Homo sapiens: one gene and its partners. Changing the gene in region 5 together with the main gene of any one other region gives a genetic interaction. Each region holds a gene or a part of one and is shown on either strand. Other genes may lie near its edges.

Region 1 (5,028 bases), on a different chromosome or scaffold from region 5:
TTTAGTTCGGAATATTGCTTTTTCTCCCTACAGCAAGGGTTCACTGTTTCTCATTTAGTTTTTGTGCAGGCGGCATTTGTATGATGAAGGCCTAATTCTCTGTGAAACTGACCAGTTCTCACCCTTGCCATTCATTAGACTTGATTCTGCCACATTTAATTCAGTGATCTTGGGCAAGTTATTCTTCACCTGAGCCTCATTTTACACATCTGGTTTTGGGGATGGTGGTGTTTGCTCTGCAAGATTATTTCTGAGGACAAATAGGATGTTTGCCAAACTCCTAGCACTGCACCAGGAGAGCTAAGAAGTGCTTAATAAATGGTGGTCATTGCTGTAATCAATAGAGAAGTTCCTCCTGGCATCGACTTCCCCTTACCAAAAACAGTAACCCTGTGGTAGCCTTTTAGATTTCCCTGTCTGAGACTGAAATCAGCCACATTTGGCAGATGCACATCAGAAGGTTCTTAAAACCTAAGTAGTATTTTGAGGAAAATAAGCATGATTTGCTTGTTGTTCAAAAATTATGAATTTTTTTCTGGGCTTCTGGTGAAGGGCTGAATATATGAAGGTTTGTAGTTTTGAAAATTTTCTTGTTTTAAAGAAAAGTCATGTTTTAGGTTTCTGATAAACTAAAGTTGTGCTAAAAATAGGAAAGTAGAACTGATAATTCATAGTTGATTTTGACTATACTGTTCAGATATGTGGTTTTTTTTAAAAAAAATAGTTGCATTAGTGAGGCATCGTTGGTATGTTCTGAAGAGAAATATGCAGGGCTTTTTCAGCTGATGCAGGGATAAAAGAAAAGGTGAATCTTCTGTTTCTCAAACTTTGAAACTTAGCTTTAAATGTTTTTTTCTTTTTTTTTTGAAATGGAGTCTCACTCTCCCGCCCAGGCTGGAGTGCAGTGGTGCAATCTCAGCTCACTGCAACCGCTGCCTCTTGGATTCAAGTGATTCTCCTGCCTCAGCCTCCCCAGTAGCTGGGATTACAGGCATCCACCACCACGCCTGGCTAATTTTTGTGTCTTTAGTAGAGACAGGGTTTCACTGTGTTGGCCAGGCTGGTCTCGAACTCCTGACCTGGTGATCCACCCGCCTAGGCCTCCCAAAGTGCTGGGATTACAGACGTAAGCCACCGCGCCTGGCCTTAGCTTTAAATGTTTTCTAGCAATGCTAGGGTTTCATGAAAATCCTAATTTAGGGATGCTGATCCACAGCTGTTAATACTCTTGACATACTGGGTCAGTGCTTTTCATTCTTTCTGACTTGGTTAATGGATGTAGTATTTGACTGTATTTTTCTGTATTTTTTTGATGGTTTTATTGGAAAGTCTGTTAGAGACTTTAAAAATTAATAACTGCCTATGGTTACTTTTATAAACATTGAGACCTTGAGATCTTGCAACTAGGATAATACTTGGTGATGTGTAATCTATTGCAACATCCCTGATGGTGGTACATACATCACCAATACTGAAAGATTCTCATAAAGGCCTTTTGGTCTCTTATGTAAGTGCCCAGGGGAAACTAAAGTCATTTGGTTGCTTGGTATTTTTGGTGTGTACAGAAGGTTAAAACATGAATTAAACTAGACTCTGAAGTGGTAAATGTTTCCTGGCTGCATCCAGTAAAGAAAACAGCACAAACACCCAAAAGGTGTGGACCCAGCTGTCTTTTTCTCCACTCTCTAAGGTGGGATTGCTGTTCCTACGTACTTGCCAAATATGTCTGCAAATTACAGAATGAATACATTCCTCTCTCTGGAGAGGCAATTACTGTTTGAATAAGAGGTGTATGTATGTGTGGGGTAAGGTTTTGGGAGAATTGATGTAATGATTTCATCATCACTCACTGGTAAGGAGACTTTGCCAGGCTGGAACCTGTTACTTGATGGAGAATTTATTATTAGGGCTTATGTGGCACAATTACTTTGCTGCTGGAAAAAGTTATTTGTACTGAGTTTTCTATTTGTTACAAATTTTAAGAGTTGAGATTTTTGCCCTCTGTGTGTTGCCCTGTGAGTATTAACAACCTCTGCCCACCAGCTTTGTCTTTTTGCCTTGTCTTAATTTTTGTAACAAAAATTCAGATGTCTTTTGAGAGTCATAACATGTATCTTGTGCAATTTTAGCTTTAGGTATTTTCATATATAACTTTAAGAATGTTACACATTATTTTCTGTGCATCTATAACTTAAAAAAAACAAAAACCATTTTCTGATGTGGCTACAGAGGGGGAAATTCCCAGTAGCCAGGAAATTGATACTTTCTACTTTTCATTCTGTGGCATTTTAAAACAGAGGGTTCAGGTGTCTTCATTCTGATATGAGTAGGATGTACGTAGCTTACCAGAATGTTTGAAAAAAATGATAATCCAAGGTAATCAATTCTGGCATGTGGCTAGATTCTGTCCGAGTGCCATGTGGTGGTTTAGTGGTTAAGAGCATAAACTTGGAGTCCATAAGATGAGGATTTTTTTAACTTCATGTATAACATGCAGTAAAGTGTGAGAAGTGTTAATATTAAGCATGAGCTCATGTATGTAAGCTCTCAGATTAAGAAATAAACATTTTCAGTACTGCAGAAGGTTCCTGCGCCCATGTCTTGTCCGTGTTCCCACCCCCTCACCCTGAAGGAACTGTTATTCTTTCTTACATCATCATAGATGTGACTTCTGTCATCATAGATGGGTTTTACCTGTTGAACTTCATGTAAGTGGAATCAGTCATACAGTGTGGCATGTAGTCTTTTGTGAAATAGGCTTGAATTCTATTTTTACCACTTATTGTGTGACTACGGACAAGTTATTTAATCTGAGTCTCAGTTACGTATGGGAATGCCTAAAGTTAAAATTACACGAACTATTTCAGGATAAATTTTCTCACTTGTAAAATGGGGAAGATAAAGCCCTATGTTAGATTTACTGGGGAAAGTAATATAAAGCTACACCTAGAATACCTAGCACTGTGCCTGACTGCAGTTTCCTCTTCCCCTTTTTATTTCTTTAACAGGGTGATAACTAAAGCAACTAGATCTTTTGTGTTTAAATGAGCTATTTCATTAAAAGTTCTGTAGGTCTTTTATTGAAAATTAGAAGACAAATCTTTATTTAATACTTTGTTGATATAGCTTTAGCTTTAAGATGTATTATTTGTTAGTTGCCTGTTTTTGACATTTCCTCTCTAAAGACAGTCATTGAAATGTCCCATTCAGAGTTGTTTGGCCACCTGTGTAACATGAGCTAGGATGCAGTGATGAGAACTGGTTTATGGTCAATTATGGAGCTTGTGGAAGAGTTTAGTTTGGGTAAGAGTCATCAATAAGTGCCCAAGATGCTCACAACATCTGCTTTATGTTTAGTGAAATAATTATTTCAGAGGTGAAAGCACAGGACCAATTATTTTAATTGCTTGCTTCAGACAAGCCACTTAAAACATTTTCAGCTCTTGTAATCTTACCGTGTAAGCGGTATTACATAATTCCATGGCCTCATGTCTCCTTATTTGTTTGGTACTTTTCATTTTTGGACTCATTCTGCAAATGTAACTTGGGTAGTACTTGGCATTCTTTCTAAATGACTTTCATTAAATGTTTATTTAGAAAAAGTATTCAAGATAAAGTAAAGGAAAATAAAACTAATTCCACCCTCTCTCACCACTATAACTACATTAACTTGATGTGGGTCCTTCTAAGTGCTCATTTCTTCTTTTGTACACTTCTAGAATGACCTTAGGAAAAACATACTTCCAATACTTTATGGAAATTTAAAACAAAATATGGGCCTGCTTAGAGATGTCTAGCAGAGAAGGCAAGAGTCTTCGTAGGCCTAAGTTCAAATCTGTCCACACTGTGGTCCCTACTTGTACCTTTGTTAGTGCTGAGCAGACAGTCCCCAGAGACTCCATCAGAGGGTCCCCTGGTCTCCAGATTACAGTAGCCAACACGGAAAACCTGCCCTGGAATACTTCTCCATTAAGACCTCAAGATGTTTGGTGAAGTGAGCAGTTTGTTCTCCGACCAAACACGCATTGATTGAGCACTTGGTGTGTGCCTAGCACTGTGCTTGGCTGTGCGTGATTGCTGCCTTCAGTGGGCAGTGTGGTGGAGACAGCCAGGAACTGGTAAGATTGCCTTGGTAGAGGTGTAAGCCAATTATGTGTTGGAGGCAGCCAAGAAAGGCTTCTTAAGGAAGTGGCCTTTGGGCTTGGTCTTGAAGGATGTGAATAACATTTCAGAGGCAGAGAAAGGAAGGTAGAAGTGCTCAAGGGATTGTAGGCTGAGAAAACAGGACACAACAGAAAGGCTCATAGAGGTCTTTTGGGGAAACAGCAGGTGATCCATTGGGTTTGGAGTGCATGGTGCTTAGAAAGGTGTAATAGGCCATGATGCAATCTCGGGGATCATGCAGAGATGTGGCAGTTAATAGTTATGGAGGTAGTGAGGAACCAGTGAAAGTTCTTGTGGTCAGGGGAGAGAGAGAGAGGGTGTGGGTGCTGACAAGTTATGGCCAGGCTTGCATTGAGGAAGATGGGCCTGAGCGTGAATGAGGCGAGCCTGACCCCGGGCAGGTCATTGCAGTCCCTGCGTTCTCTGCTTCCCATTTGCCCCCTACCAGTTTCTCTCAGAAAGAAGCTGGAGGGATCCTTTAAAAACTGAAATGACTTGAGGTTACTTTTCTACTCAGAATCCTCCAGTCAGAATCCCTGTCTTCTTCAGAGGAAAGCCAGAGTTCAAATGTCACCTACCAGGACTGGTGATCTGCCCTCCTCCTCCTACCTCCCTTCTCCCCCTCATTTCACTCCAGGCACAAGGCCCCCAGCTTTCCTGCCTCTGGCCTTTGTGGTGACTGCTCCCCCTGCCTGGAACTATCCTCACCTCTTCTCTGAGAGGAGGTTTTCTCTGATCACCCGGCATAAAGCAGCCTTTCCTTATCCCCTGTGCAGTGCTTCATATTTCATCTAAGTGTTTATCAACCTTACAGCAATCAACTCTGACTTGGTTCTTTGCTGCCTGTTTTCAACACTGCTTGGT
Region 2 (4,377 bases), on a different chromosome or scaffold from region 5:
GAAGCCAAGGTAAAAGGGGCGGCGGCCGGAAGGCCCCGCAGACACACTCACCATCTTGGCACTGAAGCGGCCGTGGGCAAGCTCCCCCACAAAGGTGAGCTTACTGGGCTCGGAGTGCCGCAGCAGGTGCGTTCTGACACCCTCGATGGCTTCCACGTAGTCTTCCAGCAGCCTGTGGACACCAGCAGTCATCTCACTCTACCAGGACGGTGCATCGGCTCCCGTGGGGCACCAGGGACAGGCACATCCTGGGCCCACACAAGTACAGCAGGCCTGGCCCTTGCCGGACAGAAGGTGCCACCCTGCACAGCCCATGGCCCTCAGTGAAGATGCCCCCCTCACCCCCCCAGAGGCCACGGTGAGAGGTGAATGAATACGCCCTCCACATAAATGCCTGGGCCAGGCCTGGCACGGCTGCGGTTTCCTGACACACAGTGTGGCGGGGGGCAGCAGGAGCGGGGGCCGTGGGAGCTGGGGGCAGCAGGAGTGGGGGGCTGCGGGAACGGGGGAGCCGCGGGAGCTGGGGGCAGCGGGCCGGGCCTCACTGTGTCTCCTGCTTCCCGCCCTGGATCCACTGCTTCAGCAGGTACTCATAGTAGCTGTCGGCCCTGGCGCCCAGCGTGAATACGCCCAGGTGGGTGAAGAGGCCACTGTGGGTATTGATGAACATGGGCACCAGCCCATCCTTCTTCCCAGACAGGCCGTGGATGTGCTGTGTCACCTTCTCCACTGCCTCCTGCGGCAGAAAGGGGGATGGTGGGTTTACTGGCCAGGGCCGAGCTGCAGGGTGAGCTGTAGAGGGGCTCTGTGAGCTCTGCCTCCCCTCGCCCCAGCACCGACTGACTCCCAGCAGAGAGAGCTCTGTGCCCAGCCCACAGCTGTCCTTGCCCACATGGCTCCTGGTGGCCGTACCACACAGCCACACAGCCACCAGTGCAACGCACCTGAATGTCACTGCTCCCAACGGGTGGTCACCACAGAGCTGACCCATCTTCAGGATGGCTCTCATCCCTTACTCGAAGGGACAGCATCTGACAACCACAGGCACTGTCCTCACGAGAGCCCACCAGGCCTGGCCGTCAGCCATGGCTCTGGAGGGACGGCAAGTGTGCCTGCCTTCTGAGCCCAGTGTTGCTCCTGATGATATTAAACGCCTCGGCTCCACGCCCTCCTGGTGAGCTCCTACTCATCCTCCAAGTCACAGCCACCCTCAGCTCCTCAGGGCTTACGCCCAGCTGGCAGCACCAGGCGTCCTGGCCCACAGAGGGGCACAGGGTACCGGGATGTTAGGGCACGCCCAGCAAGGGCGCTCCGGGTCTCTACCCAACGCAGACACCCAAACCCATGCCCAGCACCTTCGAGGCCTGGCTGCCTATCCCTGTGTACCGGCAGCAACCAGAGGCCCTGGTGACATGGGGGTGCCCATGGGGGCCTGGGGCCATTTTCTGAGCTGCAGTGAAAACGCCTTCTAAATGTCTGCATGGGAGCCTCACGTGGATGGCGTGTGGGAGCCTCACGTGGATGGTGTGGGCTGCACTTCTCACCACAAGTGGTCACAGTTGCTCTAAAGAGGGCTGTGTCCAGCTCATGATTAAAAACAGGGACTCGAACATGAGGCCAAATACATGAGCAACAATAAACTGACCAGCTGTGCTTCATGAAAATGACAATCTGTTATCTATCAAAATACACCATTAACAAAGTAAAAAGAGGCCGGGCACAGTGGCTCACACCTGTAATCCCAGCACTTTGGGAGGCCAGTGGGTGGATCACCTGAGGTCAGTTCCAGACCATCCTGGCCAACATGGCAAAACCCCATCTCTACTAAAAATACAAAAAAATAACGGGGTGTGGTGGTGGGTGTGGTCCCAGCTACTCGGGAGGCTGAGGCAGGAGAATCGCTTGAACCCGGGAGGTGGAGGTTGCAGTGAGCCGAGATCGCGCCACAGCCTCAGGCAGGTGTGTGCACCCACACTCACAACACCCAAAACACAGCCTCAGGCAGGTGTGTGCACCCACACTCACAACACCCAAAACACAGCCTCAGGCAGGTGTGTGCACCCGCACTCACAACAAAGCAGAGCCTCAGGCAGGTGTGTGCACCCACACTCACAACGGCCAAAACACAGCCTCAGGCAGGCGTGTGCACCCGCGCTTACAGCAACCAAAACAGCACAGTCCTGGTGTCCACCAGAGGAGAGAGGATTAAACAAAAAGTGGCCTAGCCACGCAGCAGATATTCAGCCTGAAAAAGGAATCTCTGAAGCATCTTTCGCGTATGAAGCTTAAAGACGCTGAGTGAAAGGAGCCCAAATAAAAGGATAAATCAGCCGGGTGTGGTAGCTCACGCCTGTCATCCCAGCACTGTGGGAGGCCCAGGCGGGTGGATCACGAGGTCAGGAGTTTGAGACCAGTCTGGCCAACTTGGTGAAACCCTGTCTCTAATAAAAACACAAAAATTAGCTGGGCGTGGTGGCAGGCGCCTGTAATCCCAGCTACTTGGGAGGCTGAGGCAGGAGAATCACTTGAACCTGGGAGTGGAGGTTGCAGTGAGCTGAGATCACGCCACTGCACTCCAGCCTGAGTGACAGAATGAGACTCTGTCTCAACAAACGAAAACAAAAAAAGGACAAATCGTGTGTGACTGCACTCACACGAGGAACTCCACACAATGAGGTCCAGGAAGAAAAACCTGAACAGTGTTTTTCAGGGACTGGGGAGGGACATGAAGGGTCACTGTGTGATGGGAGAGCTTCAGTTTTAAGATGAAAAGGGCTCTGGAGATGGAAGTGATAGCTGCACAACAGCATGAATGTGTGTAACACCACTGACCTGTACTCCTGCAACAGCGTGAATGTAACACCACCGACCTGCATGCCTGCAACAGCATGAATGTGCAACACCACCGACCTGCACGCCTGCAACAGCATGAATGTGTAACACTACCGACCTGCATGCCTGCAACAGCATGAATGTGTGTAACACCACTGACCTGCACGCCTGCAAGTGTGAATGTGTGTAACACCACCGACCTGCAAGCCTGCAACAGTGTGAATGTGTGTAACACCAACCTGCACACCTGCAACAGTGTGAATGTAACACCACCGACCTGCACGCCTGCAACAGCATGTGTGTAACACCACGGACCTGCACGCCTGCAACAGTGTGAATGTGTGTAACACCACCGACCTGCACGCCTGCAAGTGTGAATGTGTGTAACACCGACCTGCACGCCTGCAACAGCATGAATGTGTGTAACACCACCGACCCGCACGCCTGCAAGTGTGAATGTGTGTAACACCAACCTGCACGCCTGCAACAGCGTGAATGTAACACCACCGGCCTGCACGCCTGCAATAGCGTGAATGTGTGTACCACTGACCTGCACGCCTGCAACAGCGTTGTGTGTAACACCACCGACCTGCATGCCTGCACCAGCGTGAATGTAACACCACCGACCTGCACGCCTGCAACAGCATGAATGTAACACCACTGACCTGCACGTCTGCAACAGCGTGAAAATGTGTAACACCACCGACCTGCACGCCTGCAACAGCATGAATGTACCACCGACCTGCACGCCTGCAACAGCATGTGTGTAACACCGACCTGCACGCCTGCAACACCATGAATGTGTGTAACACCACCGACCTGCACGCCTGCAACAGTGTGAATGTGTGTACCACCGACCTGCACGCCTGCAACAGTGTGAATGTAACACCACCGACCTGCACGCCTGCAACAGCATGTGTGTAACACCACCGACCTGCACGCCTGCAAGTGTGAATGTGTGTAACACCAACCTGCACGCCTGCAACAGTGTGAATGTAACACCACCGACCTGCACGCCTGCAACAGTATGAATGTAAGACCACCGACCTGCACGCCTGCAAAAGCGTGAATGTGTGTAACACCACCGACCTGCATGCCTGCAACAGCGTGAATGTGTGTAACACCACTGACCTGCACGCCTGCAACAGCATGAATGTAACACCACCGACCTGCACGCCTGCAACAGTGTGAATGTGTGTAACACCACCGACCTGCACGCCTGCAACAGCATGAATGTGTGTAACACCACCGACCTGCACGCCTGCAAGTGTGAATGTAACACCACCGACCTGCACGCCTGCAACAGCATGAATGTGTGTAACAGCACCGACCTGCATGTCTGCAACAGTGTGAATGTGTGTAACACCACCGACCTGCACGCCAGCAACAGCGTGAATGTAACACCACCGACCTGCACGCTTGCAACAGCGTGAATGTAACAGCACCGACCTGCACATCTGCAACAGCGTGAATGTGTGTAACACCACCGACCTGCACGCCTGCAACAGCGTGAATGTGTGTAACACTGACCTGCACGCCTGCAAC
Region 3 (5,028 bases), on a different chromosome or scaffold from region 5:
AAACAAAAAAGTACTAAAAAAATGATGTAGGCATATCAAAGAGCAAAGGAACCAGTGTTAAGGGTGGCTCACAGACCACATATGGGACAATTTAAGCATCAAAATAAGTACATAAATTAAGAATCCCTGAGTTCATAATGATATAAAGAGAGAGAAATAAATAAGTAAATAAAGGGGGTGGAAAGAAGGGCTCTTCCTTAGAATGCCAACTTCTAAATATAGAGAAATGATAGAGCTGGAAAAAAATCCCCATTCACCAGGTAAAAATCAATTCAGCCAGGAATCGCCACACAGGTGACAGCTGGATGAGGATTAAGAGGTTTACGTAGTCTTGAAATGTCTCCTCACAGATTACTTAGTGATTACAAAAGGAAAAACACTAACGATACGGTGGAGAAACCAGCCAGCACCTTCACAGGAGGATCCTATCGAATGTCACCAAGACACTGGGGCACGTGATAGTGCGCACCTCCCGCCAGGATCCTGATGGGGACACGGGGCATCTGGCTGGACCTGCCCAACCTGAACCTACTCACAGGGAGCATCGAAGGCCGCCTGGGTCCTGGGCTCAGCTGGGTACCGGAAAAACACCACAAAGGACATATCTGAGACAACCAACAGAAATGGGGTGAAAGTATTACATCAGAATGAATGCCCTCATTTGACAGGTGCTTATGTTCTTGGGAAATAGCCACTAGAATATTAAGGGGAAAGGGAATGGTGCAGAAGCACAAACATCTGTGGAGACAGGAAGGGACAGCACCACGTGGCCAGCGTGGAAAGCAGGCTGCCTGGCTTTCTTTGAGCATCCCGCACATGTTCTCTAAGTCTGGCTAGGACGCCTCAGAAGCAAGCTCTCTCACTCACCTTCTCCCCCAAAGTTCTCCTGGAATGAGAACTCTTCTTCCCCAAGGCAGGCCAGAGAAAACTCAAACCCCTCTTGCCCAAAGCCAGCCATAAAGCCTGGAGATACTACTCGATGCTTCCCATGCCCTTTTGTGTAGGATCTGGATATTAAGAAGTTCTCTGAACTACCTTGCTGATAGTTAAGTCATAAGACTCTTGTTCCAGAGGTGTCCTGCCCTACACCTGGGAGGAAAGAACATTGCCCAGTGAGGCCAAGAAGAATCTGAACAGACAGGCCTTACTGGTTTCCCCGCTACTCTACTACTGTTAGATGGTACCCTTCTGTCCAGTCACATTGATAAGAGTTTGGGGGTCTGTCCCCTCTAAATCTCACGGTGAACTGTGATCTGCAGTGCTGGAGGTGGGGCCTGGTGGGAGGTGTTTGGGTCATGGGGGTGGATCCCTCATGAATGGCCTGGCGCCCTCCCTGTGGTAATGAGTTACCACGAGATCTGATTGTTAAGGAGTCTGGGACCTTCCCCCACCACCTGTTGCGCCCTCTCTCTCGCCTACTCCCCCTTTGCCTTCAACCTTGAGTAAAAGCTTCCTGGGACCTCATCAGAAGTTGCACAGACACAGGTGCCATGCTTGTATAGCCTGCAGAACCATGAGCCAATGAAAACTCTTTTCTTTACAAATTACCCAGCCCCAGGTATTCCTTTACAGCAATGCAAAACAGACTAACACACCTATTTCTACATGGCTGCCCATTCTTTATCAAACCTAAGCATAACAATGGACAGTCTTCCCTGGGTCTTTGGTCTTCATTTCTGAAGCCTGATGTGTTAAATAAAACTTTGATTAAATAAATTTGTTAAGGTTTTCTCCTCCTAATTTGTCTTTTGTTAAAGGAGCATTGGCCATGACCCTCATGATGGATAAGAAAAGGAATCACACTGTCCTACCACTGTAGCTGTGTGTCTTTCTTCCCTTCTCAGCTGACGAAATCATCATTCATCTTTACTTGATATCAGGCTTAAGGGACGCCTTTTCCAGGAAGTCTTCCATGATTGCAGGCTGGTCTCAGCCCTTTCCCTTCGCCTGGTATTAAATGAATGGTGCATGTATTGTATCTCCTGCTGATGTTAACTTCATTGAGCACAGAATTCTACCTCCGGCGTGCAAACCCTCCACTGAAGGGTTTAGTGTAGCTAAAGTAGTGGCTGACAAAGAAGGCCCTAAATAATGCCATTCCCAAGACTTCAGCACTGTCTACAATGGAAAGAAAGAACAACCAGACAAGAACCGCAGCTTAATAAGCCATAACTTCCAAAACAAGTGCCTGTGCTCATGGGCCCCCTGCAGGTCAGCAGGTGGACACAGGCTGCACTGGGAGGAGCCACAGAAGGTGACAAAAGTGGTCACTTTCTCAAGCACATTTCCAAAGACCATAAGAGCACTTTGATTTTGGACTGAGTGGGCTATTTTTAAAAACTCCCCATTCAACAATTCTTGAAGGCAACATATCTGTGCCTGGTAAGGGCATGACAGCGGGAGCGGACAGCATGCTTTCTGCACACTTACTTCTGGGGTTAAGTGCACTTCCATGGGCGTGTATGTTGGCCAGTAGCCCATTGTGAGTATGTTCACTGTGAGGTCTATAGGGCCTGAGTCACTCTGATTCTGCATATGCTAAAACAGAGAAATCCAAGACAATCATTTTGAGAAAGTAATAAAACATAATTAACCTAAAACAAAATAAACCGTGTAATTTTCAATATAAAGTTTCATCTGTGTTAGAATTTATCTCAGTCCCCAGAATGTATTCCATGAAACCCAATGCCTCACTAGGACTGCCTTTTTCCCTTCTTCAGGTGTCACCACCAGACTCACTGAAATAAAATTCTTGCCACACGTTTAGATCTTCTTTTTCTTCTTTTAAAATTTACTTGTGAAACGTTAATAGTGTAATTTTCTTCTTACATAGAGTGAGATTCATTCTATCTAATCTATTGAATCTACCTACCTTATCTATTTATCTATCTATGACAAGGTACTGCTATCTCTGTCTATGTATTATCTATCTATCCACCCATCCACGACAAGGTCTCACTCTGTTGCCCAGGCTGGAGCGCAGTGGTGCAGTCACGGCTCACTGCAGCCTCAAACTCCTGGGCTCAAGTGATCTTCTCACTTCAGCCCTACCCCAGTAGCTAGGACTACCTGTTCATTAAAAAAATTTTTCTTTTGTAGAGACTGGGTCTTGCTATGTTGATCAGGGTAGTTTTGAACTTCTGGCCTCAAGAACGTCTCTTGCCTCTGCCTCCCAAAGTGCTGGGATTACAGGCATGAGCCACCACACTAACAGATACTTTTTAAAAAGCCGCTTTACCTAAGAAACACAACTCACCTGCTTGAAATGAACCATGATGTCCTTCGAAAGCTCCATGTCCTTGAACATGCCTTCCAGCTTGCTGGTGAAGGCTGCACCGCACTCTGGACACAGCAAAGGAGGGAGTGAGATCGGGGTAACACACGGGGCAGCAACCCTCAGTTACAGGGGAGGAGCCCAGGCCCCACATACTTACCATGCTTGAGCTTTGACAACATAGACTTTTCAGCATCGACTGAGGCACTTTTCCCAACAAGGAGTCTTTTTGCCAAATCTTTTTTATAAAATGCTTCAAAGACATCTTTACCTATTTATAACCAGACGAGAATAATCAAGACATCAGAGAGTTGATAAGCAAATGTTAAACTTCAAACTTCAACTGCTGAAAACCCTTAAAAGTGTTTTTTTTTTTTTTTGAGACAGAGTCTTGCTCTGTTGCCCAGGCTGGAGTGCAGTGGCGCGATCTCGGCTCACTGCAAGCTCCGCCTCCCGCGTTCACGCCATTCTCTGCCTCAGCCTCCCAAGTAGGTGGGACTACAGGCGCCTGCCACCACGCCTGGCTAATGTTTTGTATTTTTAGTAGAGACGGGGTTTCACCATGTTAGCAAGGATGAAAAGTGTTCATTCTAATGCAAACTGGCTCTACTGATACTGACATTCTCATGCTAAACCTCCTCTGGGAAAGCAGGGCCTGTTTACACCTCTTGATTATGCAGCATTTTCTGAGTGCCCGAGTCTCACCGTGGATAAACCTGAACAGGATCATGATCTTGTCCAACGTCCGCTCCAGCTCCTCGTCTGTGGCTTCTTTGTTGCCTGCTCTTAACTTTGAATCCACATGCTTTGCTGTGAGCATAAACATATAGTAAATACTCTAAACTAGAAAAAGAGAGCATCTTCAATTTCTATTAGCAACATTGTACAGGAACATTCTGGAACCTTCCCAAAATGACTATATGACAAAAAAACAAATATCTGATTTTCTAAGGTAAGTACTTCTCAAGTCAAGTGAGAGTAAATACTTGCCAAAATTTTAATGAAGCCAGGACTGAATGTTTAAAGCAGGTTTAAATATCTTTCTTATCTTTAAATGCAATCTCTGAATTTCAAAATAAAATGACTTCAGCAAATACATGCTCAGGTTTCAGGACGTGACTGCCCCGGACGCTGGAGTGCCTATTTCTAGGATCTGGTGTCATGAATGCAGAGGAGACATTCTCAAAGAGAAAGACTTTCTCAGAGCATCCAAGGTGGCAACGCAGGGTGAAAGCATTTCTACTCGGGCTTCCTGTTTCTGAGGCTGCACAAGCCATCGTCAGGTGGCTTGGGAGGGAGGACCAAAGTCCCCATGTGATGGGAGAACCCAAGACTTCCAGAAGCCCAAACTCCCAAGAGCTCAACATCCCTTTGCTTTAGAGAAACCACAAATGATACAGAGGAACAAAAGCCAAAGTAAACTGCCTCCTGAATTCCTTCTGTTGCTGTTTTTGTTAGTTTTTTTCTTTTAAACATTTTGTAATGGAATATTCTGAACACACAGAAAAGCAGACAATTGCACAATGAGCTCCATGTTCCATCTTACATCTTCAGCAGTAATCAACAGTCAATCTAGTATCGTCGTATTTCAGCTCTCTTTGCCCCCTTTCTCCTTCGAATTAAAAAAAAAATTTTACTGACTAGAGAAAGCCTATGAATTCTGAAATATATTTTGATATTATTGTGAAAAAATTGTACAGCTTAAAAATAGTATTATCATTTGAGATCTCATCTGGTTTTATCCTATTTTAATA
Region 4 (5,028 bases), on a different chromosome or scaffold from region 5:
AATATAAAGAATTAACATGTCTCTAAAAGAATCATGTAGTGAGCTGACCGCTGCACTCTAGCGAGGGAGACAAAGTGAAATTTTTGTCTCAGAAAAAAGAAAAAAAGAAGAATCACTAGGAATAAATAAAAAAAATAACTGGCAACTAGAGGTTTTGTGGTTTTTTTTGTTTTTTTCTGTATGTTTTGCAAAGATGAGGTTTCGCCATGTTGCTCAGGCTGGTCTTAGACCTCCTGAGCTCAGGCAATCTGCCCACCTTGGCCTCCCAAAGTGCTAGGACTATAAGCGTGAACCACGACGCCCGGACAGCCACTGCGCCCAGCCTTATTTTGTTTTTGAGACAGGGTCTCTCACTCTGTCCCCAAAGCTGGGGTGCAATGGTGCAATCTTGCCTCACTGCAGCCTTGAAGTCCTGGGCTCAAACATTCCTCCCACCTCAGTCTCCTGGGGAGCTAGGACTACAGGCATGGACCACCACACCTGGTTACTTTTTTTTTTTTTTTTTTGGTAGAGATAGAGTCTCTATGTTGACCAGGCTGGTCACAGGAGCTATGTTGACTCCTGGCCTCAAGTGACTCTCTGACCTCGGCCTCCCAAAGTGCTGGGATTACAGGCATGAGGCAACATGCCTAGCTGAAGTTATGTGTAAAATGGAACTAGCTATTTCGAAAAAATGGTAAGCTTCTTAAAAATGTTCAAAAACCCAGGCGTGGTGGCTCACGCCTGTAATCCCAGCACTTTGGGAGGCCAAGACGGGTGGATCACTTGAGGTAAGGAGTTTGAGACCAGCCTGGCCAACATGGCGAAATCCCATCTCTACGAAAAATACAAAAATTATCGGAAGGCTGGGCACAGTGGCTCATGCCTGTAATCCCAGCACTTTGGGAAGCCGAGTCAGGCAGATCACGAGGTCAGGAGTTCGAGACCAGCCTAACCAACATGGTGAAACTCTGTCTCTACTAAAAATACAAAAAATTAGCAGGGTGTGGTGGCGCACGCCTGTAATCCCAGCTACTCAGGAGGCTGAGGCAAGAGAACTGCTTGAACCTGGGAGGCGGAGGCTGCAGCGAGCCAAGATTGCACCACTGCACTCCAGCCTGGGCGACAAAGCAAGGCTCCATCTCAAAAAAAAAAAAATTGTCCGGGCATGGTGGTACACACATATAATCCCAGCTATTAGGGAGGCTAAGGCAGGAGAATCACTTGAACCCAGGAGGCGGAGGTTGCAGTGAGCTCAAATCGCGCCACTGCACTCCAGCCTGGGAGACAGAGCAATACTGTATCTCAAAAAATAAAAAAACAAACAAACAAAATGTTCAAAATGAGGCCTTCAGGCATGGAAAAGAAATTCCTATTAAAGATGAAAGACAGACAAAGATGAAAGACAGTGTCCTATAAGATCCCTTCCAGCCACAGGAAAGTAACAAAATATGAATGTTTCACACACGAATACACACCCAAATCTTATAAACACCAATGATCACACATAATACAATTATTCCATACCAGTGCTTTAAAGTACAGTTTTGGGTAGATCTTTATGTGCTCTTTATGGTGCCAAATAAAAGGTTGAGACTGTACTTATATCGTGGGAAAAAATATGGAGGGTAATTTGTTCACTGATTGAAAGTATTTCAAGCTATTTCTGAAAACTAAATCCTTGCAAGTCCTAATTTGACACATCAAGTGTGTTTACTTATATCAATATCCACAGCCACCTATCTTTTGTTAACATACCTTCTTTTCCTCATCAGAGTCATGTAAGAAAAGGGAGCAACTTAACCTATCAAACACCCATTTATCTGGGCATGTCATATCATAAGTAGTATCTATATGCTGCCCAAAAGTTTACAAAGGGCTTTCACACGTATTGTCACATACACAAAGCTATTACAGTTGGTTCTCACAACTAGCTTATAAATTAGTAAATCAGGTGTCATCACACACATTTTAGAAAGGAAACTGGGTCTCAGGGTTACTTCGGCCTTTTCCCCAGAGACACAAACCCATGATTCTCTAACAGGTAAATACTAGAACCAAGACAACAAATCTAAGTCTTCTGACTCCTAATGCAGGACTCCTTCCAATTCCATGTGTCATCAGTTCCATGAAAAGGGGCAGTCACTGGTTTCCTGTGTTTATAGCCTACTTCTTGCTAATAGCCTACTCTGAAAAATACTGAGAGATTTATTTTTTAAAAGACCACAGATATGCCCACACTGACAGGACTCAGACCCATACTGAAGAGGCACAACTGAACTATTATAATTGCCTATATTTAATTGGGGGCTGGGGGTGTAAAGATGGATAAGGGGGATAGGATGGCACAGAGACACAAAATATTGAAGACAGAGCTTCGGTCACTTGGTTCTACCAGTAACTGTAGGCAAGTCATTAAATCTTTCAGCATTCGTTTTTTTGAGCAGTAAAATGAACATGTTACAAAAACTAAGTTCCTTTTTCCAACAAAATTCTGTGTTTCTACAGAGTTGGTGCACACTATCTAATAAAAATACTTAGAACTACATAAGTACTTCTCTTCAACTGAGCCACATATGAAGAATCTCTTCCTAGGGTTCCTTTAATGTTCCATGCACTTAGCACAGTAAAAGACAAACAAAAATGGTCTATAACATTTGCAGTGTAGGACAAGGTAAACTTGAACTTAGATTTCCACTGATAAAAGAAAAAGATGAGGACCAAGTTTGACTTAAAACATGAGTTTCTCTGCTTCATGAATAGAAAATTCAATGAGGCTTAAGTAATCTTGAAAATATTATTTTTAATCTAAGTAATTCTTATTCTACCATTCTATCTTAAGTACATGAATCTTAAGACATTTTACATTCAATTTTGTTAGCATAGTAAATATATACAAAATAACAATACATTACAAATTTACCAAAATAAATTTCAAAAAAATTACTAGCCAAGTCACTTACTATTTGAAGCTTGATTGTTTTCCCGTCTAACTCTATAGTTCTTATTTTGAAATCCACACCAATTGTGCTGATGTAGCTTTCTGTATATGTATCATCCTGAAGGGGGAAATAATTAACAATTAAATGTATTGTTCAGTGGAGCAGATGCAAGTCTAAGTGGAAAAAAAAAAACTGTTGTTCAAGAGTAAATAAAAAAAAAGTTTACTTTTATCTACAGTCCAAATTTATGAATGAAATGTATAAAGTATAACATGCTGACAACAGCCACTCCATCCACTTTCAGTACTTACTTCATATTCTGATTACAAAGCACTACTTAACTGTAGTTTCTTTCCTTAAGATCTCTACAATAGCCATTCTTTATTTTTTCCAAACATCATCTCTTGCCAAATTCTTTACATACATCATATAGAAAAATATTTTATATTTTCAATGATTATGAATAATTTTTCTAATCACTAATCAGCAAAACTCTTGCGACCCACCCACCCAATTTATTCACCACAAAACAACAATTTCACTCCGCTTTTTCTTAGAAGTCAATCTTGCTTCCTAATTATGATTTTTTTTTTTAGATATAATGCACATAACATAAAAGTCACCCTTTTGAAGTGGACAATTCAGTGGTCCTTATACATTCACAAGGTTGCAAACTACAACCACGAATTCCAGGACATTTTCTTCACTCCAGAAAGAACCCGTCTTCACTCCCTGGCAACCACTAATCTACTTTCTCTTTAGATTTGCCAATTTTGGACATTTCGTATAAATGGAATCATAAAATATGTGGCCCTCTGTGTCTGTCTTCCTTCATTTAGCAGAATGTTTTCAAGGTTCATCCATGTTGTACCATGTAACAGTACTTCTTTTTTTTTTTTTTTTTGAGGCAGGATGTTGCTCTGTTGCCCATGCTGGAGTGCAGTGTCATGATCTCAGCTCACTGCAACCTCTGTCTCCCGGGGTCCAAGCAATCCTCATGACTCAGCCACCTGAGTAGTAGGGACTACAGGCGTGCATCACCACGCCTGCCTAATTTTTGTACGTTTAGTAGAGACAGGGTTTCGTGATGATGGTCAGGCTGGTCTCAAACTCCTGACCTCTAGTGATCCCCCTGCCTGAGCCTCTCAAAGTGCTGGGATTACAGGTGTGAGCCACCATGCCTGGCCCATTTTATTGGCTGAATAATATTACATGTACTACAAATATACAACATTTTATCCATTCATAAATTGATTTGGGTTGTTTCCACTTCTTGGCTATTATGAATAATGCTGCCATGAACATTTGTGTACAAGTTTTCCTGTGAATATATGTTTCCTGTCAATTTTTTAACCTAATGTTAAACTTTTAAAATTATAACTGCTTCTTGCAAGTACCTGCCATGAAATTTTATTCAGAATGGAATAAAAATATTTCTCGTGAAAAGATATATGAATGAACAGACCAGGCTATCATCATATGAACCACAAAGCACCACCTAAGAAGTACTCTGTCAACAAAGATGGACCTTAATCGAATCAGGTCTAATGAGAACGGCACTGCCAAACAGAACTTCCTGTGACAATGGAAAGGTTCTATAAGCTGTGCTAGCCAATATGGTAGCCATTAGCCCTATGCAGCTTGTGAAACAAGAAACTAAGTTTTTGATTTTTTCAATTATTTTTCCCCCTTAAAGGGACAGGGTCTTGATGTCTCCCAGGCTAGAGTACAATCGTAGCTTACTGAAGCCTTGAACTCCTGCACTCAAGCAATCCTCCCACCTTGGCCTCCCAAAGTGCTGGGATTACAGGTGTGAGCCACCAAACTTTTTCAATTTTAATTAATTTAAATTTAAATAGCTACATAGAGCTAGTAGCTACTCTAAGGATAGTGCAGTTCTAGGTCTTCTAATTACAGAAAGAGGGACAAACAAATAAGCATAAGGACATCACAAGGAAGCAAAATGACAAATCTAGAATATTGGACAATCTACAGGACAAGTGCTTCAGTTTCTGCAAAAAGTCAATGACATAAAAAATATATAAATAAAAAAGATAAGGTATAAAACTCTAGATTAAAAGACTAAGCAAGAAAACAACCAAATGGA
Region 5 (5,028 bases):
TTAAAGTACCAATCCTAAGATTCATTCATTCAATCAACAAACAAACATTGGCAATCTACTATATAGAAGGCACTAAGCCAGGCACTGGGGATACAGTGGAGAAGCGGAAAGAGACCCCTGACCCTCACAGAACTTACATTCTGGGAAGAGAGATAGACAATAAATAATTACAAAGTAAATTACAACTGGAATAAGTATAACTGGAATATGTAACAAGGGGACTTAACATAGATTGAAAATACACAAAAGATTTAAATACATCACAAACATTAGGAGGCTGTCCTAAAAGGTGAAAAAAGATTACCACCTTCCTTTTTGTAATAGAATGCTTCTATTAGAAAAAAAACTATGAAATAAAAAGTAATTAGAAAGCTTTTTCAATATCTTGAACTAAAACATATTGACCTTAAAATTAATTCATTGTTTTCCCCTGCAATTCATAAAATTACATTGGGATCACACAAAAATGATTTAAACTCATCGCTACACACTTTTTTCTTGGACCTCCATCTTCAGTCCCCCTAGACTACCACCCTGTTCTTCTTCAACCAACTTTTCTCTGCCCAGCTCACTCTCTGAATAGGAGAGACTCACTCAAGACTATTCACTCCCACTTTACGTACGTTATTGCTGGGTAAAGGGCAAATCTATATTTGCCCAACTTCTATTTCAATTTTCCCTCACCCTTTAAAGTCTTCAATAAACTGGAGAAACAACAACAAAAAAAATGTGACTACTTAACCAAACAATCTGTTACCAAAAAGACTTCCAAAGACAGTTAATCTTTTATATATAGGAAGGAAAATCATTTTTTTCCCATAATCCTTATTTTTTGGCACCAATCCAGTCATATTTTTTAAATCACTCTCTCTGATCACCTAGGCCAAACAATTTCTTAGACAACAGGTCAGGGCACCACTAACAACACTCATAGCATTCATTCTTTTATTCAACAATTATTTATTGGACACTTAGTATATACGAGGTAGCATTGTCCAACAGAATTTTGTGATGATAGTAATGTTTATGTCTACACTGTCCAATATGGTACCCATTAGCCACATGTGGCTATGGAGCACTTGAAATGTGGTGTGACTGAGGAACTGAATTTTAAATTCTACTTGATTTTGATTAAATTTAAATGTAGACACCTGCATGTGGCTGGTGGCTACTGTGTTGGACAGAGCAAGTCTAAGTAAATTTTTGGCTCTACGACTTTATTAAGTCAGTACCTTAATGCAGCTGAACAATCCTGCCAAAAATAGTGTCTATTTAGAAAGTGGCTAACATATGGATATTTTGTTTTATTCAGTCTAACACTATATTAAAATTAACTTTTCAGAGAATCACAGAATTCTGGAGGGACAAGACAAAAATTATTTAATCCAGCCCCATTTAACAAAAAAAGAAAACTGAGGCCAGAAAGCATGAACAACTTGCTCAACATAATAATTCATTAGCGGGACTGATGAGTTAGAATCCAGTTGTTAAGAGAACCAAATTTTTCAGATATTTGATCCAGGATCTTCTCCTCCTATTGCAAACAGTGATAATGATAGAGACATACATATATATTAAAAGATAAGAGCCATACCGATGTACTGGCCGTAGCACCCTGGAATGTTGTAGGTATATCATCTTGTAAATCAGTTAGTGAAAAAGAGTGGTTTAAGTCTGACTCAGAGATAGTCTTTCCAGATGAATTGACTTCTGCCTATAAACAAGATAGACCCAAGAGCAGTGTGACAACAGGAAACAACAGGAAACATACACAATCTACAACCTGCTAAATCCTCTCTGTTGGATTTATTTTAATTGCTAGTTTAATATCTATTATCAGGCAGTTAATCACTGAGCACTCTTGTGTCCAACACTGTACTAGGTATCATAGGAAGAAGCATACACAACACCTGTTCTCAAGAAGCCGTTACTTGATGAGGGACAAAACTAACACCCATGGTTCACAATCCACAATGCTAAAAAGCTCTCAAAACTCAAGGTTTTTTTGGTAATTTTTAGGCAAAGCCTGATATGAGCTGATGTGAACCTATGAATAGTCTTTATCCCACATTAGTGTAAACATTAATCCCACATTAATGTAATATTCCCAGATTTGCTGAAGAAATCCTAATGGATTTGATTATGAGGTGCTGCCCCAGATCGCACGGCAGGTTAGTTAATATATGGTATATGTAAGATCTTTTCTTAAGTCTGAAAAATTCTCATGTACAAAACACATTTGGTCCTGAGATTTTTCAGAAGCAATTTTAAGTGTAATAGGAATCCTCAGAAGGAAGAAAGTAAACATGTTCTGAGCAACTCCTCCTCCAGGCACTACAATAAAAGAGAAGGGAACTGGACCTGGAAAGACAGACAGTCCATAGAGAAGTGGAGAGGGAAGAGGAAGAGAGCATGCTGCTTAATGCAGGTTGACATTTCTGTTTGTGAAGCTAATTAAATTCCAGAAGGATTAAATACTTAATACTTTACGTCTGTATGTATGTATGTATTTATTTATTTATATTTTTTTGAGATGGAGTCTCACTCTGTCACCCAGGCTGGAGTGCAGAGGCACAATCTTGGCTCACTGCAACCTCCACCTTCCAGGTTCAAGCGATTCTCCTGACTCAGCCTCCCAAGTAGCTGGGATTACAGGCACACACCACCATGCCGAGCTAATTTTTTGTATTTTTAGTAGAGACAGGGTTTCACCGTGTTAGCCTGGATGGTCTCAATCTCCTGACCTCGTGATCTGCCTGTCTCGGCCTCCCAAAGTGCTGGGATTACAGGCGTGAGCCACTGCGCCCAGCTAATACCTTCAATAATTAAATATTTAATACTCAAAGTATTAAAATATTATATAATCCTATGTTCGGGTAAAACATATACAGAAAAAAGGGATATATAGGAGGGATGCCAAAATATTAACAGTAGCTATTTCTTGGCGGTGAGATTATGAATGTCATTTTCTTTTTCTTTTTTCTTTTTTTTTTTTTTGAGATGGAGTTTCGCTCTTGTTGCCCAGGCTGGAGTGCAATGGCGCGATCTCGGCTCACCGCAACCTCTGCCTCCCAGGTTCAAGCAATTCTCCTGCCTCAGCCTCCCGAGTAGCTGGGATTACAGGCATGTACCACCATGCTTGGCTAATTTTGTATTTTTAGTAGAGACGGGGTTTCTCCATGTTGAGGCTGGTCTCGAACTCCTGACTTCAGGTGATCCGCCCGCCTTGGCCTCCCAAAGTGCTGGGATTACAGGCGTGAGCCACCGCGCCCGGCCATCATTTTCTTCTTGTTGCTTATCTATATATTCTGTAATAATAGCTAGAATTTATTAAGCACCAGGGACAGTTCTGAATGCAACACATGTATTACATATATTAATTCAATCCTCACAGCAATCCTATGATTTAGGTACCATTATTATTTATAGATAATAAAAAGGCACAAAGTGGTTAATTAATATGTCTGACATCATACTACTAATAAGCAACAGAGCTGGGATTTGAACCCTGGCATTGTATACCAGAGTTCAAGTTTCACTCCCTCACTATTCTATAAAGCTTTCATGAATGTAGTTAGGAATTTTGTAATAAGAAAAACATTCCATGCCAGTATTAAAACATTTCATGTACCCTATACATATATACACCTACTATGTAACCACAGAAATTAAAAATATAAAAATATGAAAAAAGAAAAACATTGGCAAATGTCATATTGTAATAGAACTGCATCGCTTTCCTTTCTATGCAGAATCCAGCAGTAAACAAAAGGGTTGCAAGATTAGCATTTATTTAAGAATTTATAGTACCTTAAAGCTTATTTGCCTAGCCAGTTCTTTGGCTTCTTGGTCAGCTTGGCTTGAATCGCTTCCAGATTTTAAAGGCAACAGGACATCCTTCATGGCAGAGCCACATCCTTCACAACAGAAATCTTGTGATCTAGTAGAAAAAGATTTTTTAAATGAAAATAAATAGTTAAATGTTTAATTCCCTCTCACTGAGACACTCAAATGCTCGATCATTAAACTTAAAAGAAAGGAACACTGGAAAATTCCACATCACATTTATCCACATGCTATGAATTAGAAAATTAATGTAATGATTATAGTCCTGAGACAAGTAAATGTTAGGCTGGCTTTAAAAAAATCCAGGGCTCAGATGCTATTTTTTCCAATAAACTATCTAAAGAAAAATAAGTTTTACATCTATACAATGAGAAAATTGTCTATTATACTGTCCTTGAGATCACATATAACAAACCTATTTTAAGGCTGTGAAAAAAGTCCTTTAACAAGATCAAATTATCTGTTAGCAGAAATATATATAAAGCAGTAAAGAAACTAATTAAACATAGAATTTACAGATATTTCTAGGGAAAAAAAAACCCCTCACAAATAGCAGTATAACTTGAAAGACTTGGGAGAACTTGCAGAAAATCCAAAGACTTAATTTATTGCTGATTATACATTAGGTAGAGACTCAGGATATGTCTGTTAACTAGATTATTTTCTAAAATATATTTGTTTTTCCATTTTTCCCTTTGTATTCCAGATATAGTCAAAACTTCCTTGAAGTTTACAAGAGTCCTCTGAGGATATGAATGACTGAAAGTAAACATGCATCATATATAAAACATATATTGTTACACTGTTAAACTTCCTTCTAAAAAATTGTTTTTCATAGTACTTCTAGTTCTATTAAAAAACCTTAGGTCTTGAAGAACATGCTATTTAAAATTATGAAATATCATATAAACAAAATATATGTAAAAGTAGCAATAATTTAGTTTTTCTGTTTGTTTGTTTGTTTGTTTGAGACAGGGTCTCCTCGTTCTATCACCCAGGCTGGAATGCAGTGGTGCAATCATGGCTTGCTGCAGCCTCAACCTCCCAGACCCCAGTGATCTTCCCACTTCAGCCTCCCAAGTAGCTAGGACCACAGGTGTGTGCCACCACACCCCGCTAATTTTTATTTTATTTTATTTTTTTTTTTTATTTCATTTTATTATTATTTTTTTTTTTGTAGAG
Region 6 (5,028 bases), on a different chromosome or scaffold from region 5:
TTAAGAACCATTAATTCTTTGGCAAATTATTTTACCTTTCTGAACTTCTTTTTCTGCATTTACAAGTAGAAATAATATTACCAACCACACAGGTTTGTTGTGAGGATCAAATAAGCTAATGTAAATAAAGCTAGGGCCTGGCATAGTCTTATCTGTGTTTTCAAGTTAGCTAGAGAATAAAATCCAAACTTCTTAGCTTTTGGACAGATCATAAACAATACTGTTTGCCTTGTAATCTTTCATGTTTCCTCTTCTTTCTCATTTACAGTAACTCTAGCCCACTGAACATCATATTTCATTGAGTGTAAGACACATATTTCTCCCATTTTAACTTTTCTACATACAACATGTCTTATAATCCAAGCCTTCTTGCAATCGCTGTCAGTCAAGTGTCAGTCATTACCGTGACATAGTTTTCATCATCAGTGCATGTGCCAACATTAATAACAATGGCATCCAGAGTTTCAGAATGAATGGCATGGTTTGAAAAAAATCCTGGGAACAGTAGTGAAGCTCCTTTCAAGCCTAAGAAACAAATACGTGTGTGTGTGTGTGTGTGTGTGTGTGTGTGTGTGTATGTGTGTGTGTGTTGAGAAGGGTGGAGAGTACGTAAGGAACAGTGTTGAATCAGATTTGTTTAGCAACATTCTGGAACTGTTACTCAAAACAGTCTACCTCTATGTAATTGCAAACTCAGTTTAATTGTCTAGCACCAAAAGCTTTTGGTCTATTATGGATTCTTTAGATTGTTTTAAAGAAATCCTTCATCACCAATGTCCTTTTGGCACAGAGCACAATCCTGTGGAAAAATATGGGCACTGAAGCTTCTGAGTTGAAAAGTGATTCTGAAGACTCCATCCCCAAATGTGAAGGAACTTAGGAATACCATAACAAATTTGTTTATTTTTTAATTATGTGCATAAGAGTTATATATGATCCAAATCTATATCTAATTGAGTATAAAGAACTGTTTTAAGAGGTATAAAATAAAAATCTAAGATATAATTTAACTGATAACACTTCTTTTTGCTTATTTCTTAAAGATACATAAAATGTCAGAGCAGGTTACAATTGATAGAAGCTTAGACTTCATGCTATATGGTATTCATTGGTTACCCTAAAATGGTGCCTAACATACCAAAGGAACTTAAACAAATGTTTGTTGAAATAAATTAAGAATCTTTCCAGATGGAATACAGTGTCTGGCCCTGAATGCCCCTCCAAGAAAAGGGTTCCTGCAGAAATCCCTCCCCTAGGTTAAGTGTGGGGATTTTCTTACTGCCCAGGATCAGCTTTTTATAGCTGCTTCTGCCACCCTTCAATCTACTCTATACAAAATTCTGTTTCAAGAAGGCTAACTCAGTAATAACAAAAATGATTTTTATCTGTAACAGTTTAGCTCCCTAAAAGAATTTTTAAGTTACCTTTAGAAATTGCCATTTCTAATTCTTATTTTGACTCCTAACTCTCAAGATAATTTTATTAGCGATTCCCATGAAAAGAACTCTTCCTAGTTTTTTTGTTTTTTCTTTTTTTTGTGAAGGTTTTGTGCTACTACAAGTCAGGACAAAATGCTTTTTGTATCACAAACCAAAGCTGGTGCAATGGAAACATGAACTCTGCTTTGAATAGGCAGTCAATCTTAACATGACTATCCACACTGTAATTGATTCCTGGCAACTTATATTTTTAGACGAATACCATGTAAATGCTTTAAAAATTATGCAAATCTTGTGGTTAAATCCCCAGTTTCACACTGTCATGTGAGTCAATGTCTCTAAAACAACCTGCATTATAGCATAGAAGCAGTTTTATCCACATGATGGCAATGAAAAGTAAAAGAAAGCCTTGCCTTTTGCAATCTTTAGTCATGATCAGTTTGTGGATCTTTGGTAACATTAGCAATCGACACAATTTTGTTAACATTCATAGTCTTCCTTTGGTGACAAAGACTGGCAATTTTTCAAAACCTAGTTTCACTCTTTATTGAAATAAGAGATAAAACAAAATCCTTTGCTCTTCCCTTTCTTTCTTCCCATTTGTGCCAACTGCTAGCTGTGTAGCATTTGGCAAGTCACCTACCTTCTTTTTACTGTCATTCTTTTTTCTTATCAGTAAAGTGAGGATTATAAAAATGCATATCTCATAGGTTTGTGATACGGATTAAATGAGTTAATACCTACAAAGCACTTGGAGAAGGGCCTAGCACACAGAAGTCGCTAATAAATCTAGCTATTATTTCTATTCTTGCTGGACATAATCATATAAAATCAACAGAGATGAATGAATAAATAGATTAATGAATTAATGAAAGAAGTGAGATATAAAGCTTGACCTCCAAAGATGGCTAAGATTTCAACAGAAAGAGAAAGTGGGGGTTAAACATACTTATTACTGCTATTTATGCCCTTTTCTTCCAGTCTTCTATCCGTACCCAGGATATAACTTAGATATAATGAGCACAGCACAAGGAATGTTGGTTCAGTAGATCAGAGCCAACGTGTGGCTTTCCAAATTCCTATGAAAAGGGAGAAGAGAAGGAATGGGGGTGAGTGCGCTTTTGAAGAGCATAATCCACCTGTATCCAGCTGTGCCTGGCTGAATACTGAGAGAATAGAGGACTGAGATATGGGATACTGAGAGAATCTGCCAGCCCCATGGTCCACGTGTTCCAGCCCCAAATATATTGGGTTTTGCCCACTTGACAACAACCTACTGGCTGTGTAACTTACTGCACATTGTTTAACATTTCTAAATTTCAGCATTGTTCTTTATAAAACGGATGCTAAAAATAGCTGAGTAGATGCTCTGAAGATCAAATTACATTTGTATGACAACTAGAAAAGAACCTGCTACAGAATAGGTATTCAAAAAATGTTAGTTGCCCCAAATATATATAAATATTTTGGATTAGTCCTCCACAGAAACAGCAACTTACATTAAACTGTATGTAATTCTAGTTAACATCATTTCTCCTCTTTGTCATGGCTGAGAGCTGAATTAGGTGGAGAACAGTTATGCTGCAATCATATAGGTTGTTTGAGTATGTGTAACACTCATTTCTGTATTCTGCTCTAAACAGAGATTCTATAAGAACTGTGATTCAGTCAGTTCCAATGGCTTAAAGCCTCTTGAGCAGCATACCAAATTTTAGATGCCAAAGTTTAATTGAAACTTGGCATATGGATGAACACTTCTGCATGTATTGAAAGCCATCAGAAGATTCCTAAACAAAGAGCAATCACACACATGGTAATTTTATCCAACTGGAACCAATTATATTTGGCATTTTTTATGAAAGAGGGAGAAAAATAAGAATGGACTCAAGAAAATGTTTTCCTTTTATGACTTTTACCCTCTTTAAGATGAATTGCCTTATGAAGTTACTTCTTACAACTCAAGGAGCATAAACTGTCTAGAGAAAAAAAATTATGCAATGTCTTCCTGGAGGCAAACATTTTGTTACAGAATAAATGTGGACTTTTAAGCACATCTGGCAATCATTCCACAACCTACAATGCTGGCACCCTAAAAATGCTTCACGATAATAATATGTTACCAGTAGAGTTGATTACTTCAAGCCAGGGGAGGTTTCAACACAAAACAGGTCATTTCCATGCAGAATACAGAGCTTCAAAGTCATCAGCTATGAGACCCACCATTAATCCAAGTGGTTGGGGGAGACGATTACTCCTAATAGAAGGGGAGCCAGATTTGAAGGTGGTTTTTACACGTGCTTTTCCCCTGGAAGAGCAAGCTTCCACACTGCAATCTTTCACCAAAGTCTAGGTCTTGGCTTTATGGTTATAGATGCCATTTCAAAGGGTATACTAGATTATAGGATTCTTTCTGCGTTCTAGACCACTACATATGTATAAGAAATCATTGTGTCGCACATGTTCTCTTTTATTGATTTCACTTACCATTCAATAAATATGTCTTGTTAAGAAAATCAGCCCTTTAATTTTATTTGGAAATACCTCGTACTGCTGCTGGACTGTCATGTTCTGATGTGACTGCCCCTTTGGGGTCAGAGAGTAAAGCCACACTTCTGTAGGTCAGTGGTGGTATCTTTGCTTAAAGGAGTAGACATATCTAATGTCAATCATCTAGGAAAGAAGGAGAATTTTAAAAAGAAATAAAGTTTGGAAAATAGATATTACACCAAAGAAAAAGGTTGTGGCGGGAGGTGGGGAGGCAGTCATTCTTCAGTCTGGGCTAGGACAAAGGACTAGATTGATTGAGGACGGTCTGCAGAGGGAAAACAAGAACGCTCGCTGCCAGATAGATAATGCTTGGGGCCAGGCAAGGGTCAATCCCCAGGAGACTCCATAAATGAGCTGGAAGAGCAGTTATAGCCAGCCAGGAGTTTTTCCCTTTTTATTAATTCTCTTTGGTAAAGATATAGCCTCGCCTCAGGTGTGCAGAGGGAACTTTAACGGAAGAGCCTCAGGCTAGAGAGCTAAAAGAAGAGTAGTATGCTGGTGGCAGTAGTGATTGGTGAAAGATTCCCTGAAAGATGAGTCTTTGTGACAGGCAGCTGGAATACAAGATATAGGTATCTCTTTTGATATGGACATTCACTCTTCTGCCCAACTTAGCTGATCCAGATGCTATTTCATTAAAGTAGCTGGCATCATTTTATTCCTTATTTGAATAAATATCAAGGAGGAGGAAATCTCTTTGTTGAGGAATAGATTAAATGGTACCTTCTCTCTGCTAGGCACTGTGTTAAGATAGGGGGATGAAGGACAGACCCACTTCTTGTGGCTTACATTCTAGTCAGAGGAAAAGGACGTGTGAACAAATAAATGTAAAAATGTGTAACAGATGTTTCAATGAACATAGTTGCCAAAAACAAGGGAGAGATAACAAGGATATAATAATTTAATATGATGCATAGGCCTGAGTCCATGTTCTTCAATCTTAAACTTCTTTAAGAGACTAGTTATCCTATTGGCAAGTAATATCAGGAAAGATTCTCTAGCCTACAGTCTGAATTTTTCATTCCCTTATTATCAATGTGTT

What was found.
Region 1: changes in UBE2J1 (region 5) and B3GNT2 together harm fitness more than expected from each alone (negative genetic interaction), as found in Homo sapiens cells (one large-scale study listed by BioGRID).
Region 2: changes in UBE2J1 (region 5) and MAN1B1 together harm fitness less than expected from each alone (positive genetic interaction), as found in Homo sapiens cells (one large-scale study listed by BioGRID).
Region 3: changes in UBE2J1 (region 5) and CUL4A together harm fitness more than expected from each alone (negative genetic interaction), as found in Homo sapiens cells (one large-scale study listed by BioGRID).
Region 4: changes in UBE2J1 (region 5) and RAB1A together harm fitness more than expected from each alone (negative genetic interaction), as found in Homo sapiens cells (one large-scale study listed by BioGRID).
Region 6: changes in UBE2J1 (region 5) and TRPC6 together harm fitness less than expected from each alone (positive genetic interaction), as found in Homo sapiens cells (one large-scale study listed by BioGRID).

What each region holds. Positions count from the first base shown.
Region 1 is NC_000002.12:62,198,093-62,203,120, forward strand, and holds part of B3GNT2 (N-acetyllactosaminide beta-1,3-N-acetylglucosaminyltransferase 2), read left to right. Parts: intron 1-5,028. UniProt on the Homo sapiens protein: Beta-1,3-N-acetylglucosaminyltransferase involved in the synthesis of poly-N-acetyllactosamine. Catalyzes the initiation and elongation of poly-N-acetyllactosamine chains. Shows a marked preference for Gal(beta1-4)Glc(NAc)-based acceptors.
Region 2 is NC_000009.12:137,102,484-137,106,860, reverse strand, and holds part of MAN1B1 (endoplasmic reticulum mannosyl-oligosaccharide 1,2-alpha-mannosidase), read right to left. Parts: coding exon of another isoform or gene 2,496-4,377; exon of another isoform or gene 1,885-2,495; intron 737-1,884; coding exon 546-736; intron 173-545; coding exon 52-172; intron 1-51. Other genes in the region: uncharacterized protein LOC124902313, read right to left, coding at 2,651-4,085, 4,122-4,377. UniProt on the Homo sapiens protein: Involved in glycoprotein quality control targeting of misfolded glycoproteins for degradation.
Region 3 is NC_000013.11:113,243,466-113,248,493, reverse strand, and holds part of CUL4A (cullin-4A), read right to left. Parts: intron 4,085-5,028; coding exon 3,980-4,084; intron 3,546-3,979; coding exon 3,435-3,545; intron 3,343-3,434; coding exon 3,257-3,342; intron 2,539-3,256; coding exon 2,431-2,538; intron 1-2,430. UniProt on the Homo sapiens protein: Core component of multiple cullin-RING-based E3 ubiquitin-protein ligase complexes which mediate the ubiquitination of target proteins. As a scaffold protein may contribute to catalysis through positioning of the substrate and the ubiquitin-conjugating enzyme.
Region 4 is NC_000002.12:65,095,029-65,100,056, forward strand, and holds part of RAB1A (ras-related protein Rab-1A), read right to left. Parts: intron 3,039-5,028; coding exon 2,943-3,038; intron 1-2,942. UniProt on the Homo sapiens protein: The small GTPases Rab are key regulators of intracellular membrane trafficking, from the formation of transport vesicles to their fusion with membranes.
Region 5 is NC_000006.12:89,331,492-89,336,519, forward strand, and holds part of UBE2J1 (ubiquitin-conjugating enzyme E2 J1), read right to left. Parts: intron 3,941-5,028; coding exon 3,811-3,940; intron 1,715-3,810; coding exon 1,595-1,714; intron 1-1,594. UniProt on the Homo sapiens protein: Catalyzes the covalent attachment of ubiquitin to other proteins. Functions in the selective degradation of misfolded membrane proteins from the endoplasmic reticulum (ERAD) and is essential for cells to recover from ER stress.
Region 6 is NC_000011.10:101,573,382-101,578,409, forward strand, and holds part of TRPC6 (short transient receptor potential channel 6), read right to left. Parts: intron 1-5,028. UniProt on the Homo sapiens protein: Forms a receptor-activated non-selective calcium permeant cation channel. Probably is operated by a phosphatidylinositol second messenger system activated by receptor tyrosine kinases or G-protein coupled receptors.